Linked DNA regions of Homo sapiens. The protein of the gene in region 2 interacts with the protein of the main gene of each other region in a biochemical or structural test. Each region holds a gene or a part of one and is shown on either strand. Other genes may lie near its edges.

Region 1 (7,024 bases), on a different chromosome or scaffold from region 2:
GCCTCAGCCTCCTGAGTAGCTGGAACCACAGGTGTGCACCACCACACGAGGTTAATTTTTTTTTTTTTAAATCATTTGTAGACACAGGGTCTTGCTATGTTGCCCAGGCTGGTCTGTAATTCCAAAGCTCATGCAATCACCCCACCTTGGCCTCCCAAAGTGCTGGGATTACAGACATGAGCCACCGTGCCTGGCCTAACACCCTCTTTTAATGCTTTCTCAATGACTTAGAATCAGCTGTATCAGGGCCATGAGTCCCTACATGGGAAAAAAAAAATCTCAAAATGCTGTCTTTTTTTTTTTTTTTTTTTGAGACAGTTTCACTCGTTGCCACAGCTGGAGTGCAATGGCAGGATTTTGGCTCACCGCAACCTCCGCCTCCTACGTACAAGCCATTCTCCTGCCTCAGCCTCCCAAGTAGCTGGGGCTACAGGCATGTGCCACCACGCCCGGCTAGTTTTGTATTTTTAGGAGAGATGGGGTTTCTCCCTGTTGGTCAGGCTGGTCTCGAACTCCCAACCTCAGGTGATCCGCCCACCTCGGCCTGCCAAAGTGCTGGGATTACAAGCATGAGCCACCATGCCTGGCCCAGTGCTATTTTAGAGTACTTTGGCTATTCTTCAGGAAGACATTAAACATAACCACGTCTCTGTGCAATGCAGTGAGCCATGCTGATGGCTGGGTGGATGCAGACCACCGTGTGGCTGCCCCTGTCCTCAGGCCACAGTGCTGCTCATAACACCCACCCTACTTCCTCTTCTATCTCCTACTGCCTTGAAGCAGGGTGGAGCAGAGCCTGAGGGTGAACCAGGCAGCTTGTTACTTAGAACATAAATAAATATATAGGTCATCCTCAAGAAGCAAAGGGATAAAGTGAATAACATGCTTTTAATAGCCATTTGGTTGAGATCCTTTTAATTGGCTTTTACATGCCCATGTCCAGCAGGTGGAGGTTGCCAGAAGTCTGGATATTGATTGAAAAAGTAAGAACACTATAATTTCATTGAAGTTTTAAAAGTATGGCCAGGTACAGTGGCTCATGCCTCATAATCCCAGCACTTTAGGACGCTGAGGCGGGAAAATTGCCTGAGACCAGGAGTTTGAGACCAGCCTGGGCAGTACAGTGAGTCCACATAAAAAAAAAAAAAAGTTTACCGTACCTTTACGTCCAAAGTAGCACCAAATGCCATTCGGAAATCTCCATTAAAATCTTTAGTAAAGATTCTTTGGAATGTCTGCTTGAAGAGAGAAGTGTTGAAAGAATCTCCCATTACCATGTAGCCTCTAGGTAAGAAGAAAAAAATCAAGTGAATATTAGGAAGATTGAAAGCCATTCAGATGCTCCCTCAGTATTTACAAAAATAATTTAAAGAAAAAAAGAAACCAGGTCCCCAAAAGAGCCACTGATTAATTTAAATATAAAAAAACAGGCCAGGCACAGTGGCTCACGCCTGTAATCCCAGCACTTTGGGAGGCCAAGGAGGGCGGATCACTTGCGGTCAGGAGTTCAAGACCAGCCTAGCCAACATCGTGAAACCCCATCTCTGCTAAAAACACAAAGATTAGTAGCCACAATCCCAGCTACTCAGGAGGCTGAGGCAGGAGAATCACTTGAACCCAGGAGGCAGAGGTTGCAGCGAACCAAGATCGGACCACTGCACTCCAGCCTGGGCGACAGAGCAAGACTGTTTCTCAAACAAAAAAAAAATTAATAAATAAGTAAATAAATAATAAAATAAATTAAAAAAATAAAAACAGCATGTTAAATTCATACTTGGCAAAGAAACTACTTCTAAAGCATTAAACAGAAGCCTTAAGAACAGCTCTAATTCCTCTCACAGTTCTTTGGTATGGGAAAATACCCAGGCCTGTGGGAAATCCTTTTCAGGTTAATTTACTGCCTCAAAATACTGAATTCTTGACTTTACAAGAATTATGTTTTCCAACTCATGAGTATTAATATTAATCCCTTACTGAAGTTAGAGGAAAACATTGTGCAAAATGTCAGCATTTCATGCATTTGGACAGAAAAGCACAGCTTGACGCAAGTTATGCCTCCAAACGTCATTCATAAAACAAGATCTCAGAATCTTGAAGAACACAAGAAAGATCATCTGGTCCGGCCATCTCAGAGTGCCTGAACCGTCTGTCAGCTCTTTGGCACCAAATATCTACCTCTTCCTTAGTTTCCTGGAACAATGACATTTTCCAGCCTGCCTTGCCTATGGCCATGTGCCTCTGTTGGCATGTGCGTTCTGACTATTGCTGTGTCCTTTATATGTGGAGTGTGTTCCTCCAGGAAGAGCAATCCTTCTCTGACCTTTCCTCCTTCCTGCTGCTGTAAATGGCTAGAGCTCCAGCAACTGTCTTGAGCCACAGATGGCATATGAATGGTGGTAGAGCAGCTTAGTAGGAGCCTCAGCCCGTAATGATGACGAAAGCAACATACCAGCCCCGGACTGCCTACCGCCAGAGAAATAAACTTATTGTGGGTTTTCTGTGACATTCACACAACTCTAATACTAACACTCAACCAAACCCTCTGCAAAATACCTGCCAAGTTACATCCAGACTAGGCTTGAACTCCTCCAGCATTGGGAGCTTCCTCCCCAAGCTGTCCATTCTGTGTTTGAACAGCTCTGTTAAGAAAGGCCCTTCTTGATATTGAGTGAAATTTCATTTGCCAGCAGCTTCCACCCACTGGTTTGGTTCTAGTTCCACTCTTTGGTCACATACAGAACAAATCAGATTCCTTCACAGGGAAGTCCCTCAACTGCTGAATACAGTTCTCACACCCCCATGTGTCTTCAGCTTAATCTTTTCCAGCTACTTCAATCATTCCTCACATGACAGTTTCCAGGACTCTCCACCACTGCTCTTCTTCAAACATCTCCAATTCATCTCCTATTGCCCCTTGAAATTGCAATGTTCAGAACAGAAAACAATGTATTTGGATAAGGTGTGACTAGCACCAAAGAAACCAAGAATATGGTCTTCCCTGAAGATAATCTTCTCCTATAGCACAGCCTGGAATCACCTTGCCTTTGCTGGAAGTCATCCCACACTGTTGGCTCACCTTGAGCTATACTAACACATGTGTGCAACAGATGGTAACTCTTCACAGAAAAAATTCACACAAACTAGCATACAATCTAAGGGATGTTCACAAATACACTAAAGCTTTTCTATGGACATTCCGAGTCAGAACTCCTGGAAGGCCGTGGTAGGAATTCATACTATTAAATGTGGATTACTGAGATAGCTACATCAGTATCATTTGGGACCCTAATTCTATCACCTAACTCATCTGCTGCTCTCTAGGACAACTCCAACTGATTCTGGTTCTACCTTTTATTCCTTTTACTCACTGGGGACCAGCAGCATCACCTGTGGGGTTGTTAGAAATGCAGACTCTCAGGCCCATTCCACAGCTCTATGATGCTTCTCAAACTTCTGTGCATGCAAATCACCTGGGATATTGTTCAAATGCAGGTTCTGATTCAGGTCTAGAGTGAGGCTCAAGATGCTGCATGGTTCTCAAACTCGGCTCTATGTTAGAATCACGGGAGAAACTTTTAAAATGCTGATGCCCAGGCTGCACCTCATGCTAATTAAATTAGAATCTCTGAGGACAAGACCTAAAGAAAGTGTAGCTTTTAAAGTTCCCCTGGTGATAACAATACGTAGGCAGCTGCAGACCAGTGCTCATCAGTGGTTCCTACACTTTCATGTGCCCTAGAATCTCCTAGAGAGCTGCATTCCCGGGGTTTCCGATTCAGGAGGTCTGGGTAAGGCCTAGAAATATACAATTCCAATCAGTTCCCAGGAGCCCCTAAGGCTGCAAATCTGGACACCACCACATGTTGAGAACCACTGCTCCACACTCTGGCCTGTGAATACAATACTGACTCAGGCTTTGAGTCAGTACAACCTCTAGGCTGAGTGCACTTGGAGTTAGTCACAAAGTATGGCCACTTAGCCAGGTTTATCCTAGTTGTTTCAGCATTCAGACCCTGTTTTCCCCAATTCTCAAAAGGAAGTGCCCTGATGAAGGCCAGATAGTCCATGCTGCTTGCTTTCTTGGCCTGGTCTCTGTAAAAGTGTTAACAACTCTAAGGAAGAAATAAGTTACTCTGAAACGACTTATTTGTAGTGAACTCTTGAGCCCTCCTACTAATCACTACTTCCCTCTCCAAGGAGCCCACAGGCCCTCCCCAGTCACTGAAACCATAGCCCAGAGCTACCTGAAAGCTTCTCTGAGTTGGCCTTGCCCATTCCTATGGCTCCATCACTAATTTCTCTTTCCTTAAAATAACACTGTCACTCTGCCCAGGTTTTCACTGTCAACATACCCAGTAAGATTTGCACAACACTTCATCTCCAAAAGTCCAGTTTGATCAAGGGCACAAGCATAAATATCAATGCAGTGACCATTTGCAGCTGTTCGATTAGCAAGCATCTCATAGTGCTGTGAAGAGAGGAAAGCTATCTTTAGGAAACAGTGACATTATTCCCAAGGTATGCCTGAATTACCGAAGGAGGTAATCAAATATAAAAACATGTAAATCATTTTCTTTTCTCTTTTTGTGACAGAGTCTCTCTCTGTTGCCCAGGCTAGAGTGCAGTGGTGCGATCTCCACCTCCCGGGTTCAAGTGATCATCCTGCCTCAGCCTCCCAAGTAGCTGGGATTAAAAGCGTGCGCCACCATCCCCAGCAAATTTTTGTATTTTTATTTTTATTTACTTTTTGAGACAGTCTCACTCCGTCACCCAGGCTGGAGTGCAGTGGCACGATCTCAGCTCACTGCAACCTCTGCCTCCCAGGTTCAACGGATTCTCGTGCCTCAGCCTCCCGAGTAGCTGAAATTACAGGCACATGCCACCATGCCCAGCTAATTTTTGTATTTTTAGTACAGACAGGCGTTTCGCCATGTTGGCAAGACTCGTCTCGAACTCCTGACCTCAAGTGATCCGCCCACCTTGGCATCCCAAAGTGCTGGGACTACAGGCGTGAGTCACCACTCCTGGCTTAAATTTTGTATTTTTAGTAGAGATATGGTTTCACCACGTTGGCTAGGCTGGTCTTGAACTCCTGACCTGAAGTGATCTGCCAGCCTCGGCCTCCCAAAGCGCTGGGATTACAGCCGTGAGCCACCGGGACTGGCCTGGAAATCATTTTCAAAAATATCTGAATAAAATAAAAATATAGTTTTCATTCTCAAAACCCTTTGAGTAGTTTTAAGGCCACCCACTCTAATTAAGGTCTGAAAGTAGGAGCAATAATTTAACAGCAGCTAAGATTGGAAAACTGTCTCTGAAACAGCGTCTTGCTGACCATGACACATGACCTTGGCAAAGTAGCTGTCACTCCAGAGCAGCCCAAACCTGACAATGGGCTTTCAGAATTACAGCCCATACCCAAGAGCACCTACCTTGGTTGCCTTTTTCATGAATCGTGCATTATCTTTCTCAATATCATGCCAAGAACGAATAGGAATCTTTAATTCATCTCCAACCACCATGCCAGGCCCTTGGGTAGGGGGACCTCCAGTAAACAGCATGATCCTGGCTCCTGTGTTTGGAAAAGTGCCCTAAAATAGCGAATGGCAGCATGTTAGAAGTATACAGCCTCACCTTTTAGTATGGTTTCAGTTTCCCAATAGAAATACTCCAAAGATGCATTCTCTCCAGCTGTCCTAAAAAGTGGTGATAATGCAGAATAATACAGATGATAATGCAGAAAAGCAGCACTTGTCTTCTTCCAACCTTATGGGTTTGCACAGTTTTATTAATTCGCTGTTTGAGTGCTCCCTATTGCTCTAATTCTTAGTTTTTCAATGAAAACTTTTGGCATTTTCAAAATGTTGAGGGGCTCCCTCAACGTGAATGATAATGATGCCTCAAATGCTTTCTGATACATTAACACAGACGGTTGACTTAGATCACAAGTGATTTTCAAACAAAGCCAACAAATATATTTTCTGAGAGCACATTTGTATGATTTGAGAGGTCCTGGTAAATTTTAAATTACCTCCAGCAAGCCAACAGCAATGGACAAAGCCACACCAGTGGATCGCAAAGGTCTCTTCCCCTGAGTTACTGGCCATGGGTCCCTCTGTAGCTCCCCAAGAAGATCAGTGAGGTTCATATCAATCTTGTGAACAGGCTGCAGAAATCTGCAAGATTTTAACAGACACATCAACCCAGATTGAATAAAGTACTCTGGTCTTCAACACTAGGTGCCACATAATTACTGCTCTTCAAGATAATTATTCAGAGTAGTAACTGACTGGTAATTTTTTTCTTCAAAGCTATCTCTCTACTAACACAAAACAATTTAAAGCAGTTTTATTGAGGAATATAAAGCCCAGTACTTAGCAATTTACTTATGTTGCACGGAAAAAAAAATTGTCTGGAAAAGGAGCAATTCAGTTTAATTAATTTTTAGACAGCAAAAAAATCCTAAGGACATGCCTAACATGAGTTCAGTCTATGTGAGGTCCATTTATGTGGACAATCTTCATCATTCCTCATCATTCTAATCTGTGCTTCTCTTAAGCCTTGAAAGTAAGAGGTTGTCTTCAGCATGTCGGGCAATGCATTTTATCGAGCTTGTTAGCTCAGTCTAGGCACTCAATGGGCTGAGTCAAGTGAATACCCGGTCATAAGTATGTTTGAGGACACATGAAAGAAGTCTTTTCAGTTTTTCCAGTTTTACTTAAGCATCAAAAAGGACATCAGATGTGGAATGTCTAAAAACAGCAATTGAGCACAGTGGTCTCCAAACCTTTTTGACAAAACACTGAATATTGATTAGGCTTAATCATTTATCTTTTTCTCTAATAATAAGAAAATACAAATTCTAATATTTTTCTTCCCTTACTCCCATGGATCATCTGCATGTCCATCACAATACGTGTAACACTCCATGTTGGGCTCTCACCTGCTTGAAGCAAAAGGGTGCTCCTGTGGTTGTGCAGGTCGTGCTTGCTGCATGGGCATGGCTGGCTTGGTCAGGCCCAAC
Region 2 (7,169 bases):
CCTACAGGGCAGCGGGAGGGGAAGGGTCAGGCCTCCCTCCACCCATCAGGGAGCAGAGACCAAAAAAACCGGGGGATACGGAGGGAGGCTGTATTAACCCTGGGAGGTACAGCTGCAAACACAGACTTGTTCAGGCTAAGTTCAAATCCTCACCCTGCCACTCACTGGCTGTGACCATGAGCAACTTAATTAACCTATCTGAGCCTGTTTCCTCTTCTATAAGCTTCCAAATTGCTGTGAACATTTAATGCCTAAATAAATGTACAAGGATGAGCATGGTGGCTCATGCCTATAATCCTAGCACTTTGGAAGGCTGAGGTGGGAGGATCGCTTGAGCCCAGGAGTTTGAGACCAGCCTGGGCTACATGGCAAAACCCCATCTCTACAAAAAATTAGCCAGGGGTGGTGATGTGCAACTGCAATCCCAGCTACTCAGGAGGCTGAAGCAAGATTACACCTGTAATCCAAACACAGGAGGATCACTTAAACCCAGGAGTTCAAGACCACCCTAGCCAACATGGTGAAACCTCGTCTCTACAGAAAACAAAAAATTAGGCATGGTGGTGCACACCCGTAGTCCCACTGAGGTGGCAGGATTGCTTGAGCCCAGGAGTTTGAGGCTGCAATGGGCTATGATCACACCACTGCACTCCAGCCTGAGTGACACAGCAAGACCTTGCCTCGCCGTAGCTCACACCTGTAATCCCAGAGCTTTGGGAAGCCAAGGCAGACAGATCCCCTGAGGTCAGGAGTTCGAGACCAGCCTGGCCAACATGGTGAAACCCTGTCTCTACTAAAAATACAAAAATTAGTCAGTCAGGCGTGGTGGCACAGCTATTCAGGAGGCTGAGGCAGGAGAATTGGCTGAACCTGGGAGGCAGAGGTTGCAGTGAGCTGAGATCGTGCCACTGCAATCCAGCCTGGGTGACCAAGAGAGATCTGTTAGAAAATAAATAAATAAGTAGTTAATTAAAATACTAATAAATGTACAGAACATATTTGCTTGTGGTTAAGAGCATAGTTGCTGAAACCAGCATGGGTTCAATACCAACTCTGCTAGTTGGTCTGTGTGGCCGTGAGTTGCTCAGCCATCTTGTATCTCACTTTCTCCACCTGTAAAATGGGGATGACTTGAGCACAGGGTCTGCTTCACAAGGTGGTTTGGAGATTTACGGTATGAGTTATTTATGATATGAGTTCCTTAAACCTTTACACCAGGGTTTATACCTAGAAATGAACTACTTTTTTTTTTTTTTTTTTTTTTGAGACGGAGTTTTGCTCTTATTGCCCAGGCTGGAGTGCAATGGTGCGATCTCGGCTCACTGCAACCTCTGCCTCCCAGGTTCAACTTCCACCTCCTGGGTTCAAGTCATTCTCTGGCCTCAGCCTCCTGAGTAGCTGGGATTACAGACGCCCGCCACCACACCCGGCTAATTTTTGTATTTTTAGTAGAGACGGGGTTTCACCATGTTGGCCAGGCTGGTCTCAAAACTCCTGACCTCAGGTGATCCACCCGCCTCAGCCTCCCAAAGTGCTGGGATTACAGGCGTGAGCCACCGTGCCCGGCCTGAAATGAACTACTTATTTTAAGAGCTGCTACTCTTACTATAATTCAGTTGGAGGGCACAACTACGGAGGGGAGGCTGGGTCAGCCCAAGGGGGGCACCCCAGGTGAATCCTAGAGATCTGGAAGGAGTGGCCCCAGCGCAGCCTGGACACACCTTGATGTCCTCCATTTTAACATCCAGCATCTCCTCGGGCTCCACAGCCTCTGCCCATCCTTCGACCTCCTCGTCATCCTGGAGGCTGTCAAAGATCAGTTCAAAGAACACCAGCTTCTCGGAGATGGTGCTGAAGGAGTTGTCAAAGCACAGCTTGTAGTCCCCGGCCTCCGTTGGCTCCACCCTGGGCAGACAGACACACAGACATGACCCAGGGTGGCCAGCCAGCCGACTCAGCGGGGCAGTCAGGGCGGTAACCTGAGGCCGCCTGGGAAGGGCAGGGCTGTAACTGAACCCAGGCAGGCATCAAGACTGAACTCACGTGTGTACCCCATCAGCCTTGCGGGACTCGCTGACCAACAGCACGCCCTGAGGGCTCTCCAGCGTGAAGTCCACGTCCAGTCCAGCACCTCCGATCACCTGGGGGGCAGGTAAGAGCGGGTGGAGGGCTAGCGGTAGGCCAAGGGCGCCTGCCGAAGAGGGCTACGGCTGAACCAACACTGATCAATACAGACCACCAAGGGCTTACCTGAACGGCGGCACACCCACACCCGCCCCAACCTGTCCCAGTGGCTGCGCCCCTTGCCTCCACCCTCATTGATATGACAGCTTGGGGTCCATACTTTCAGCTGACCACGCACCTACCAAAAGTACTTAATGGACGTTTACCTGACCACGCCCCTGGTTGGCTCCGCCTCCGAAAGAGGATAGGCCCAGCCTTTTTCCTTAGTCTAACCCCCGAGAAAGGCCTGTGTGGGCAACGCCCCCGCAGTTGACCTATCAGCACTATCGCCACGCCCACCAGCCAGAGTCCTGTCCTCTCAGAGGCTCCCTATACTTATCGATGGCCCCGCCCCCTCTGGATCTCTTACTCTAGCCCCGCCTGCTTCATTACTCCCTCCCCTTCCGCTCCCACACACCGTCCCCGCCCCATCTGTCCATCTCTTTCTAGCTCCGCCCCCGCGCTCCCAAGCACGGATTCCTCCCCCTTCCTCCTAAAGCGCGCCTCGCCTCGACCGCTTGGCCACGCCCCCTCTCCCTGACTCTGCTGGCCGCCCAGCCCGCGACCCTCTACCTGGTATTCGGTCTCGAGGCTTGCGTTGGCCGGCGCGGACTGGTAGAAACACTGCTTCCTCCCCGCCGGCAACAGGAACGTGAACTCACCGTCCTGGATTGGCGGGGGCCCCGCCCCTCCCACCTCCACTGGTGGCATTAGTAGCCACAAGGCCAGGGCTAGGGCCGCGCCGGCCGCCATCATCCGGGTCACCCTCTGGTCTGCAAAGGGGTCGCGGCTCCTTTAAGCGCTAGCCCTGCCCCGGTGCTACTCGGCGGAGCTCATTGGCAGTGGCTTCTGTATGTTGTCCGTAACCAGAGGTGCCAGGAGTGAAGGACCCCCCCACTAGAGGGCAGGCGGCCCGAATGAATGCCTGATGTGCCCAGAAACACTCAACCGTCTGGGAATATTTTTCTCAAAGGCTTCGGCTCTCTTCTCGGCCGCTGGTGGAGGAAAATTACAAAAATAAGTGCCATGATGGCGCATCTTTTGTAGGCAGTAGCTAAGACAACTAAAGTTACAGGCGGCAGGGTCCTTTTTAGTCACCTCCACGTGGTTTTCCCAGAGTGCGCCGCGCGTGACAACCTTTGGCGGGACCGACGTGGTGGAGTGGACCCAAAAATAGCGTCTAGGCGTGGCCCTGTACGCGACCCGTAGGGCTCGCCTATAAAAGGGCTGGGGCGGGGCGGAGATACCTGTGGCGTCGTGTTTTGCTTGCTCTGTGAGCGTGGTCCAGGTTCGACGCCTTTTGCGCCTTAGAGGCATCAGCGTATCAGTTTCCTCGTAAGTCGGGAGTGATGGAACGACCACCCTGTAGTGCGGCTGTGAGAATTGAGATGAGGCTTGGTTCATATTGAGTGCTCAGCTTTCCTGGCTTATAGACAGTGGAGGGGCGTGGCCCCACCATGCACCCCAAGGGTCTCAGACTCAAGGGCCAGCAGGTAAATAGAGCCATTACAGTAGCCTCGGGTCAGAAAAACGACAGCCCAGGTAGGAAGAGATAAGGACAGTGTGGGACTGGGAGCCACGTTGCCTGGTTCAGCTCCTGCCCCACCCATTACTTGAGGCATTCCCTCTGTTGAGCCTCAGTTTCCTCTTCTGCAAAATGGGGATAATAGGCCTACGCTACTGGGCTGTCTTTAGGATACGTGAAATGCTTGTTGAGTGCTTGCTTCCGCAGTGCGTGGGACATCACAGGCCCTCAGTAAATAATAATCTGTTATTTGGTTCCCGTCTAAACATAAACTGTGTACAGGGAGATGTTTAGTCTTCAAAGATAAACCCGGAAAAGGTTGGCAGGTGATGACAAAGATCCCTCAAATACAGCTGGCTGTTGTCAGCACTTTCCTGCATTTGGAGAATTTGGGGAAGTAGCTCTTTGTAATATCAGTTTGGTATTCCTTTTCACTCCAACTTTTTCTATCATTTACACTCACTGCTTGGACAATTTGAAGTAACAGTGGAGAACGGGTGACTCCTTTTCTTTTTTTTCTTTTTTTTTTTAATTTTTTTTTCCTTTTTTTTTTTTTTTTTTTTTGAGACAGAGTCTCCCTCTGTTGCCCAGGCTAGAGTGCAGTGGCGCGATCTCGACTCACTGCAACCTCCGTCTCCTGGGGTTCCAGCGATCCTCCTGCCTCAGCCTTCCGAGTAGCTGAGACTACAGGCACGTGCCACCACACCTGGCTAATTTTTTGTATTTTTAGTAGAGAGGGGGTTTCACCATGTTAGCCAGGATGGTCTCGATATCCTGACCTTCTGTTCCATCCACCTCGGCCTCCCAAAGTGCTGGGATTGTAGGCGTGAGCCACTGCACCCGGCCGGATTTTTTTTAGGACAGGGTCTTGCTCTGTTGCCCAGGCTGGGGTGCAGTGACGCCATCATGGCTCACTGCAATCTCTACCTCCTGGGCTCAAGTGATTCTCCCACCTCAGCCTCCTGAGTAGCTGGGACTACAGGTGTACACCTCCATGCCTAACTAATTTTTTGTAGACATGAGGTTTCCCTGTGTTGCCCAGGCTGGTTTCAAACTCCTGGGCTCAAGCCATCTGCCTGCTCCCTCACCCTCCCAAAGTGTTGGGATTACTAAAATTGATTTTTTTAAATACAGTAAAATTCACATTGCATAAAATTAACAATTTTAAGGCCGGGTGTGGTGGCTTACACCTGTAATCCCAACACTTTTGGAGGCCAAGGCAGGCGGATCATGAGGTCAGGAGATCGAGACTATCCTGGCTAACACAGTGAAACCCCGTCTCTACCAAAAATACAAAAAATTAGCCAGGCGTGGTGGCGGGTGCCTGTAGTCCCAGCTACTCTGGAGGCTGAGGCAGGAGAATGGTGTGAACCTGGGAAGCGGAGCTTGCAGTGAGCCCAGATGATGCCACTGCACTCCAGCCTGGGCGACAGAGCAGGACTCCGTGTCAAAAAGAAAATAAAAATAACCATTTTAAAATTAACAATTCAGTGGCATTTAGTACATTCCAGTGTTGTGCAGTGACTTCTATGTAGTTCCAAAACATTTTCATCGGCTCAGTAAAGATCCCTGTACCCATTAAGCAGTGATTCTGAAACGGCCTCGTTGTCTTGAGTAACACCCGGGGTCGTTGTCTCACAGCCACGAAGAACAAGGACCAGGACACACAAAAGAATGAGGTTGAGAACGAACGTTTAATAGGCAACGGAGAGTATAGCTCTCTGCTACAGAGAGGAGTCCCAGAAAAATGGGTTGCTGGTCCATAGCAAAATACAGGGGGGTTTATAGATGAGCTGGTGAGGAGACTTAGCCTGATTTACATAGGGGATGAAAAACTGGTTAGAACAGGTGTGCCATTTGCATAGGGTGTGAATTTCTGGTATCTGCTAATCTTTTATTATGCAGCCGGGGTCTCTACCTGAGCTGTGCCACATCGCCCATTTCTTTTTCTTTTTTTTTCTTTTTTTTTTTTGAGACAGAGTCTTGCCCTGTCACCCAGGCTGGAGTGCAGTGGCGTGACCTAGGCTCTCCGCAACCTCCGCCTCCCAGGTTCAAGGGATTCTCCCGCCTCAGTAGCTGGGATTACAGGTGCCTGCCACCACGCCCAACTAATTTTTTGTATTTTTAGTAGAGACAGGATTTCACCATGTTGTCCAGGCTGATCTTGAACTCCTGACCTCATGATCCGCCCACCTTGGCCTCCCAAAGTGCTGGGATTACTGGTGTGAGCCACCTTGACCAGCCCCATGTTGCCCATTTCTTAGTTCCTGTACACGTGGTAGCAAAAAAGGGGAGATGGAGCCTCCGTGTTGGATATGCCTGGCTCCCAGGTAGCCATTTTCTGTTGGTGCAGCTGCCAGCATTCCCACGTGCAAGCTTCCAGCTTCCTTATCTATGTTTGCAGCTTGAGTTTTCAGGCTGCTATTTATTAGAAAAGAAATGATATCAGGGGCTACTTTCTGTTAGAAAAGAAATTCTGCTGAGGACTCTTTGCCCTCACTGCCTGCCTAAATACTTTCTATCTCCTGTATCAACTCCTCATTACACTTTGCCCCCCGCCTCTCAACTAGCTATGTGCTTTTTGCCTCTAGGGATTTACCTACTCTGGATATTTCATATGAATAGAAGCAGACAATGTGTCACCATTTGTATTGAACTTCTTTTACTTAGCATGTTTCTAGGGTTAGACCATGTATCAATATTTAATTCCTTTTTATGGCTGAGTAGTATTCTATTGTATGTACATACCACAATCAATTTTTCTTTTGTTCTTTTTTTTTTTTTTTTTGAGACAGTCTCGCTGTGTTACTCAAGCTGGAGTGCAGTGGTGTGATCACAGCTCACCGCACCCTCCACTTCCCGAACTCATGTGATCCACCTCAGCCTCCCAAGTAGCTGGGACTACAGGTGCACGCCACCACACCTGGCTAATTATTTTTCTGTGGAGACAAGAGGTCTCCCTGTGTTACCCAGACTGGTCTTTAACTCCTGGGCTTAAGTGATTCTCCTGCCTCAGTGCCCAAAGCGCTGAGATTACAGTTGTGAGTCACTGTGCCTGGCCCCACAATTTCTTTAGCCATTCATTATTGAGGGACAGTAGAGTTATTTCAACCTTTTAGCTATTGTGAGTACAGCTGCTGTTAACATGTATGTATGTGTATTTTATTACTTGCGTTCAGTTCTTTGGGGTATAGATCTCGTGGTGGAATTGCTGGATCCTATGGTATTTCTATGTTTAACTTTTTGAGGAACAACCAAAGTGTTTTCCACAGTGGCTGTACTGTTTTCCATTCCCACCAACCACGTATGAGGGTTCCAGTTTCTCTACATCCTCACCAACACTTGTTACTTTGCATTTTGTTTTTTGTTTTGTTTTGTTTTTGAGACAGTCTCACTCCTTCACTTTGGCTGGAGTGCAGTA

What was found. The genes of interacting proteins can lie anywhere in the genome.
Region 1: the proteins of TMED1 (region 2) and SEC23B interact in a test that uses a peptide from one of them, tested with the Homo sapiens proteins (one study listed by BioGRID).

Annotation. Positions count from the first base shown.
Region 1 is NC_000020.11:18,524,940-18,531,963, reverse strand, and holds part of SEC23B (protein transport protein Sec23B), read right to left. Parts: coding exon 6,944-7,024; intron 6,177-6,943; coding exon 6,032-6,176; intron 5,592-6,031; coding exon 5,433-5,591; intron 4,469-5,432; coding exon 4,353-4,468; intron 1,285-4,352; coding exon 1,161-1,284; intron 1-1,160. UniProt on the Homo sapiens protein: Component of the coat protein complex II (COPII) which promotes the formation of transport vesicles from the endoplasmic reticulum (ER).
Region 2 is NC_000019.10:10,833,213-10,840,381, forward strand, and holds the start of TMED1 (transmembrane emp24 domain-containing protein 1 precursor), read right to left. Parts: upstream 3,001-7,169; 5' UTR 2,980-3,000; coding exon 2,797-2,979; intron 2,529-2,796; exon of another isoform or gene 2,391-2,528; intron 2,380-2,390; exon of another isoform or gene 2,320-2,379; coding exon of another isoform or gene 2,251-2,319; intron 2,142-2,250; coding exon 2,044-2,141; intron 1,906-2,043; coding exon 1,722-1,905; intron 2-1,721; coding exon 1-1. UniProt on the Homo sapiens protein: Potential role in vesicular protein trafficking, mainly in the early secretory pathway.